Homo sapiens: one gene and its partner. The protein of the gene in region 1 interacts with the protein of each later gene in a pairwise test. Each region holds a gene or a part of one and is shown in the gene's direction. Other genes may lie near its edges. The genes, in order: SNX13 and NR1I3.

Region 1 (3,818 bases):
TGTTCAGTTTTAGTAGATACTGCCAAGTACTTTTTCAAATTATTTGTACCACTTACATTGCCATCAACAGTACATGAGAGTTCCAGTGTTCTACATCCTGCCAGTACTCAGTATTTTGTTTTTTTAATTTTAGCCATTCTGGTTGTTATATTTCATGCGAATTTGCGTTTCTGTGATAACTGTTGAAATGTTACACACCTTTTTATATGTTTATTGGCCATTTGAATGTTCTGTCTTATGCGTCTGTCAAGACCTTTTGTCATTTTTCTGTTGGCTTAGCTGTCTTAGTTCTTAGCTATCTTAGTTCTTTTGATTAGTAGGAGTGCTTTATGTAATCTGAATGTGAGTTGTTTGTCAGATATATGTAATACATTGTCTTCTCTCTAGGTTTCTTTCTTGTGCTATATATGTTATCTGTGCCTATTGCAGGGTCACAGAGATGTCCTATAATTTTCTTTAAAAACATTTTTTGTTTTACTGTAACAACATTTAAGTTTGCAGTTCATCTGGGATTGATTTTTGTATATGGATTGAAGTATGGGTCCAGTTGATCCAAGCACCATTTACTGAAAAGGCCATCTTTTCCCCACTGTACTGTTTCTCCCTTATCACAAATCAGGTTACCATATATGTTTGGATCTGTTTTATTCTGTTCTATTAGGCAGATTTATTTTAAGTTGTAATTATCTCCTTTCTGTTTCTAATCGAATTTGTTTATAATCAACTGTCTTAATCAAAAATAATATTTTCATTTGGTTTTTCAAGATTATTTTAGGATGTTTATTATGTTTATTGATGGTATAATATCCATAACATTGTACCTTTGGTATGTGGTTTTTACAGTTTAGCTATTTATTAGATTTTCATATGGCACCAAACTCGTAGGAATATACTTGATCAGAGAATACAGAAGTTTTTATTCTGTCTCAGTAATGAAATGGGTCTCCCTCTCCCTACTGGTTTTGATTAAGCTGTATGATTTCAGTTTTTGAAATGGAAGGTGCACTAAGGAAATGTTTGTAACGTGACAGTGAAAAATGTATAACTCATGCTTTCTTGCCAGTATTTAAATTACAGTGTTGATGAGGAAATAATTGGAAACAGTTTCTCAGTGATGAAAAAATTATAAAATTACTAACAATTATATGTGGTACTAAATCTGTACCTGCTTTTTATTTTATACGTATTTTTTTGCATCAAAGCATTCCGATCGTCTTCCTTTTTACCTTAGTGGTTGTATACTTAGTGGTTGTATACTCCCATAATACTGACTTTTATTTGCTAAAAGCTAAAAGAAAATTCTAGTAATTTAGTAAACTATGCCTTTTGTAATGTGAATTTAGTTGTGTGATGGATTGAACTTCAGCATCTTTTTCCTGAAAGTACATAAATACATACAATTTACTAACTAAGCAAAATACATTATTCTGTATCATTCATGTTTTGTTCTATTAAATATATGGAGATGTTGAGAATATCTTATTCTTGTGAAAAAGATGCATCAGAAAATAGACAAAGGGTCTAGCATTTGCCTTATCAAACTCATACAGTCTCTTCCAATAGTAAGAACCAAATCATCTTTTCCTAGGACCATCATGAATCTACTTTGCCTTGAAAATGTTAAACTATAGCCTTAAAATTTATTCATTATTGTGGGGCTATGAAGTTCTGTATTCTGTCAGAATGACTACTAGAAATATTTTTTCTACATTAGAATTTAATGTCAAGTTACAAAGGCTAAAATGTAACTTGTTCTCTGACTTGTGAAATATCAATCATTTCGTAAAAGCAACAAAAGTAACAATTCATAGTAGATAGCTAACTCAAACTTATTCTTATTTCTTATATTTTGTCAGGTGGATGACAATATTCCACTTAGGGTAATGCTGCTTCTCATGGATGAAGTATTCGACTTAAAAGAAAGAAATCAGTGGTTGCGAAGGAATATCAAAAACCTACTTCAACAGCTTATTAGAGCTACATATGGCGATACTATTAATAGGTAGCACTCTTTCCTCCTCGCTTTTAATCTGATCTTACTTAGCTATTAAACTCTTACTTCTGGAAGTAGATTGCTCAACCTTTGTAGGAGAATTTTTTTCTCTGGGCCTTTTAAGGACATCATTAAAGCAGTCTGTTGCTCTCAGGGATAATTTACATCCAGATTAAGTTGCTTGCTCTATGAAAGTCACGTTTATTTTTTTCACCTTCTAAAATTTTAACCTTCCTCATTTACATTAATTTACTTTCAGAAAAATAGTTGACCATGTTGACTGGATGACTTCACCTGAACAAGTAGCCGACTCAGTGAAACGTTTCAGGTATATCTTAAGACACAGTCACTTCTTTCAGGTAGTACAGAGTTTAGCATTGTTATCACTAATTAACTTTCATTGCTTTTGTTTCCTTCCTGGACATAAAGTTGGTTTAGTTATCATTGATGAGCAAAAAGACTTCTAAGAATTATACTAAACATTTGTCTTATGAACCTATTGATCTTTGTTTCTTTAAAACCAGAATAGGAAAAGTAAGAAGAAAGATCTTTCAAATGATAGGCTACATTTTATCACAGTACCATGGCTGTAAGATAATTGAAATATTCACCTAAAAATGATATGGTTGTATCATCAAATATCTAGTTTTGGGGATTAGTTTTTCTCAGTTGTATTTTCTAACCTTCATTTTAAATGAAATTGTTTTAAGTAAGTCTCTCTGGCTATGTTGTAATTTTTTATTAAATATTGGAACCTCTACAAGGAACAAAAATTAAGTAGGTACCCTACTTCATATTTCTTTCTACAAAAAATACTGAGCGCCTCCTCTGTGCCTAGCACTCAGCCCATTGCTGAGATAAGATGCAGTCCCTTGAGGAAAGTACAGATAGTAGAGAAATAAACCTCTTTTCTGAAAGTGAAGATAAGCAATGCGTAAAAATTCATGGCATCATGTATTTTGAAGGGAAGGAAAGGAAGCAAGAAGGGAACTATCAGTATTGAACACTAAGTTCTTGGCACTGTGCACAGTACTTTATGTATGCTTTCTGATTTTATGCCATTTTTCGAGGTAGGTATTTTTGTCTCTATTTTGTTATAAGGAAATTGAGGATTAGAGAAGTTGAATAGGCTCTCAGGCTACAAAGTGGGGAATCTGGTTTCTCTAATCTGAAGCTAAGTTTCTTCCCACTGTACCATACTGTTTCCAAAACTTGGACTAGCTGCCCTGGCATGTTCATTTTATTTCAGGGTAGGTAAATGATGTTCCTCTGGAGTGGTGATTATCAGCTTTGGCTGTTCATTGGAATCACCTCTAGAGCTTTAAAAATTACTAATGCCTAGATCCCATGTCCAGGGAGTCTGACTTAATTAATCCAATGAAAGGCCTGAACATGAAGAGCCTGTAAAGCTCTCAGGTGCTTCTAATGTGTAAAGTTAAGAACAGCTGCTCTGGGGAGTCTTGCCCTTACACCAAATTCCCAGATGAAAGCTTAGTTTTTGTGCTCAGTCCCTGCCTTCAGACCAAGAATTAGGGAACAGGAGTAAAGCACACTGAAAGTTAAGAAGAATGGGTTGTTTTACTTGTGAAAGGACCATTATAGTCAATCCATCTGTAAGTTGTGGGCTTAGAATTTAGTATTATGTAGGCTTAATTATAAGAGGAGTGGGATGGCATAACTGAAGGAGATAGCTATTAAACTCTAAGGCATTGAGATTCAAGATATTGTAGGGTTGCATTTGGATGAGATGTTCAATCAGCAGATGCCCACTTTGAGTTTAAATGGCTGTGATATAGTCATGTACATATTCCATTTTGCTGTCTTC
Region 2 (4,309 bases), on another chromosome or scaffold:
AAAAGTACAAAAATTAGCTGGGTGTGGTCGCTCTGTCACCCAGGCTGGAGTGCAGTGCTGCGATCTCGGCTCACTGCAACCTCTGCCTCCCGGGTTCAAGTAATTCTCCTGCCTCAGCCTTCCACGTAGCTAGGAATACTAGCGTGCGCCACCATGCCTGGCTAATTTTTGTATTTTTAGTAAAGACAGGGTTTCACCACGTTGGCCAGATCTCTTGATCTCATGATCTGCCCAACTCGGCCTCCCAAAGTGCTGGGATTACAGGCATGAGCCACCCCGCCCAGCCAAAAAAAAAATATTTTTTAAAAATAGCACTTTATTATTATTATTATTAGAGATAGGGTCTTGCTATGTTGCCCAGGTTGGATTCAAACTCCTGGGCTCAAACCATTCTCTCCCTGTCTCCAGAGTAGGGGGATGTACAGGGCATGTCACTGTGCCCTGTGGTCACTCTGATTTGATTCTCAGCCCTCCCTAGTTAGGAAGTGAGAGGGCTCTTTCCGTAAGCTCTTACTTAGATCGTAGTCTCTCTCTCTCTCTCTTTTTTTTTTTTTTTTAGACGGAGTCTCACTTGTTCTGTGCCCAGGCTGGAGTTCAGTGGCATGATCTCAGTTCACTGCAACCTCCGCCTCCCGAGTTCAAGCAGTCCTCCCACCTCAGCCTCCCAATTAGCTGGGATTACAAGTATGTGCCATCATGCCCAGCTAATTTTTGTATTTTTAGTAAAGACAGGGTTTCACCATGTTATCCAAGCTGGTCTCGAACTACTGACCTCAAGTAACCTGCCTGCCTCAGCCTCCCAAAGTTCTGGGATTACAGGTGTGAGCCACCGTGCCCAGCCCCTAGTCTCTTAAAAACTTTTTTTGGGGGAGCCTTGTGGAACTGTCACACCTCTTCTTTTAGTACTGACATACTGCGTGTGAAAAAGCTTGCTCTGTCTGTCTGCCTGTCTCTCTCTCTCTCTCTCTCTTCCCAGCTTGTTCAGGATCTCTGTACACAGAAGGCTGCAGATGTAGCCTTAAACTCATCAACAGGGAAAATCTCGATGAGTCTAATAAGCAGCAGCTTCCAATGAGTCACAAGGTTCCCACCCACTGGAGTCCCTCCCCGTGTGCCACCAACCAGCACTTTTGTCATGCTGGGAAAACCTCCCACCCAGGCCTTTGCCCTGAGTCCAGGGTCTGTGCCCTAACCCCACAGTCACTGAGAGCAACTGGAGGCCACATAAAACAGACATCTCTTGTTTTCCAGATACTACGGGTCATAATCCCTAACTCCAATCACTGGCAACTCCTGAGATCAGAGGAAAACCAGCAACAGCGTGGGAGTTTGGGGAGAGGCATTCCATACCAGATTCTGTGGCCTGCAGGTGACATGCTGCCTAAGAGAAGCAGGTAGGAAATCTGTTGGGGACCAAAGACTAAATGTAATAAAATACAGATAATGCTGGGGGCTAGGCATAGTGGCTCACGTGTGTCATTCCAGCACTTTGGGAGGCCAAGGTGGGGGGATCGCTTGAGCCCAGGAGTTCAAGACCAACCTGGGTTACATAACAGACCCCATCTCTACAAAAAAGAAAGAAAAGAGGCCAGGCGCGGGAGCTCATGCCTGTAATCCCAGCACTTTGGGAAGCCAAGGTGGGAGGATTGATCACTTGAAGTCAGGAATTTGTTTTTTTGTTTTTTTGTTTTTTGTTTTGTTTTTTTGGGTTTTTTTTGAGATGGAGTCTCGCTCTGTCGCCCAAGCTGGAGTGCAGTGGCGCAATCTCGGCTCGCTGCAACCTCTGCCTCCCAGGTTGAAGCGATTCTCCTGCCTCAGCCTCCCAAATAGCTGGGACTACAGGCACATGCCACGATGCCCAGCTAATTTTTGTATTTTTAGTAGAGACGGGGTTTCACCATGATGGCCAGGATGGTCTCGATCTCATGACCTGGTGATCCGCCCACCTCGGCCTCCCAAAGTGCTGGAATTACAGGCATGAGACACTGCACCAGGCCTAAGTCAGGAATTTGAAACCAGCCTGGCCAATATGGTGAAACCCCATCTCTACTAAAAATAAAAAATTAGCTGGGCATGGTGGCGGGCACCTTAATCCCAGCTACTCAGGAGGCGGAGGCATGAGAATCACTTGAATCTGGGAGGCGGAGGTTGTAGCGAGCCAAGATTGCACCACTGCCCTCCAGCCTGGGTGACAGAGCAAGACTCAATTTCAGGGAAAAAAAAAAAAAGGAAAGAAAGGAATAAGAGAGGGAGGGAGGAAGGAAGGAAGGAAAAGAAAAAAATATCCTGGTGTGGTGGTGTGTACCTATAGTTCCAGCTACTCAGGAGGTTGAGGCAGGAGGATCCCTTGAGCCCAGGAGTGTGAGGTTACATTGAACTATGATGCACTCCAGCCTAGGCAACACTAGGCAACAGAGTAAGACTCTATCTCAAAAAACAGAACAAACAAATAAACAAAAAAAAATAAACAAAAAAACCAACCTGGGCAACATGGCAAAACCCCATCTCTACAAAAAAAATAAATAAATAAATAAACAAAAATTAGCTGGACATGGTGGTCTGGACCTGTAGTCCCTGCTACTCAGGAGGCTGAAGTGGAGGATTGCTTGAGCCCAGGAGGCAGAGGTTGCAATGAGCAGAGATCTAGCCTAGGTGACAGAGCAAGAACTTGTGTCAGAAAAAAAAGAAAAAGAAAAAGAAAAAGAAAACCACAAAAGATAACGCCAGGGATCAAGTCAAGGGCATGTTTGGTTTGGTTTGGAAAGAGACTCTCTAGAAGGGACAGAAAAGGGTCAAGGGTGGCCCAAAACTGACTGCTGACCCCTCCTACATTCAGGAGTCTGTGACAGCCACCCCAACACGTGACGTCATGGCCAGTAGGGAAGATGAGCTGAGGAACTGTGTGGTATGTGGGGACCAAGCCACAGGCTACCACTTTAATGCGCTGACTTGTGAGGGCTGCAAGGGTTTCTTCAGGTGAGAGTCTCCTCCCCAATGGAAATAGCCCTCCAAACCAAACTCCCTATTAGTCAGCCTTTACACCCTCGCTGGTGCCCAAGCCTGTCCAGCTACATTACTCCTTTATCTTAGAGTCTAACTACCCTGTGGCTGGCATCCTACATCTTGCCAAACACATCACTGTATAAACTGGTGGCATAACAGAGGGAAAGCTGAATGTTTGTCTGATGGACACAGCCCATTAGTCAAGAGCATTTATTATGTACCCACTGCCTGTGAAGCACCTAGCTAGTACTACATCAACTAGGCTTTCTGGAGTGATCCTGTGTTGCCATGGAAATGCTTGAGATGTGTTGGATACTATCCACCCCTGGGGACCTTTGGGCACAGCTCAGATTAGTCCATTTCACCAGATTCCCAGGTCTTTTAGACCATGTCATCTCAGCCCCTCACCTATCCATTGCATCCCAGACTCTAACAACATCTCTGTGTCTCACAGGAGAACAGTCAGCAAAAGCATTGGTCCCACCTGCCCCTTTGCTGGAAGCTGTGAAGTCAGCAAGACTCAGAGGCGCCACTGCCCAGCCTGCAGGTTGCAGAAGTGCTTAGATGCTGGCATGAGGAAAGACAGTGAGTTGGCCCCCTACATCTCAAGAATCCATTGACTGCGTCTGTCTTTGTCCTTGTTCCCAACAGTGCATTCTCTACATAGCAGGCACAGTACTCTTTTTGAAACTAGTTGGATTATGTCACTATTCACTCAAGACATCCAATGGCTCCCCATCTCAAAGTACGTGATCTCATGATCTAGCTCTCCCACAACACCTTTCAGACTTTATTTCATACTCTTCCCCCTTTACTCAACCAATTCTAGCCACACTGACTTCACTGTCATTCTTAGAAACACCAGGCCGGGCGCGGTGGCTCACGCCTGTAATCCCAGCACTTTGGGAGGCCGAGGCAGGCGGATCACGAGGTCAGGAGATCGAGACCATTCTGGCTAACACAGTGAAACCCCGTCTCTACTAAAAAAATACAAAAAAAATTAGCCGGCCGTAGTGGCGGGCGCCTGTAGTCCCAGCTACTCGGGAGGCTGAGGCAGGAGAATGGCGTGAACCCGGGAGGCGGAGCTTGCAGTGAGCCGAGATCGCGCCACTGCACTCCAGCCTGGGTGACAGAGCCAGATTCCGACTCAAAAAAAAAAAAAAAAAAAAAAAAAACACCAAGCGCACTCTTCCCCAAGGCTTTTCCACTTGCCATTTCCTCTACCTGAAATGCTTTTCTCCTAGATAGCCACATGGCTAGTCTTGTCTTTTCTTTTCTTTCTATTTTTTTTGATAGAGTCTCATAC

What was found.
Region 2: the proteins of SNX13 (region 1) and NR1I3 interact in a two-hybrid assay, tested with the Homo sapiens proteins (one large-scale study listed by BioGRID and IntAct).

What each region holds. Positions count from the first base shown.
Region 1 is NC_000007.14:17,797,193-17,801,010, reverse strand, and holds part of SNX13 (sorting nexin-13), read left to right. Parts: intron 1-1,856; coding exon 1,857-2,002; intron 2,003-2,252; coding exon 2,253-2,321; intron 2,322-3,818. UniProt on the Homo sapiens protein: May be involved in several stages of intracellular trafficking. May play a role in endosome homeostasis. Acts as a GAP for Galphas.
Region 2 is NC_000001.11:161,235,126-161,239,434, reverse strand, and holds the start of NR1I3 (nuclear receptor subfamily 1 group I member 3), read left to right. Parts: upstream 1-1,231; 5' UTR 1,232-1,374; coding exon of another isoform or gene 1,375-1,394; intron 1,395-2,836; 5' UTR 2,837-2,869; coding exon 2,870-2,976; intron 2,977-3,457; coding exon 3,458-3,588; intron 3,589-4,309. UniProt on the Homo sapiens protein: Binds and transactivates the retinoic acid response elements that control expression of the retinoic acid receptor beta 2 and alcohol dehydrogenase 3 genes.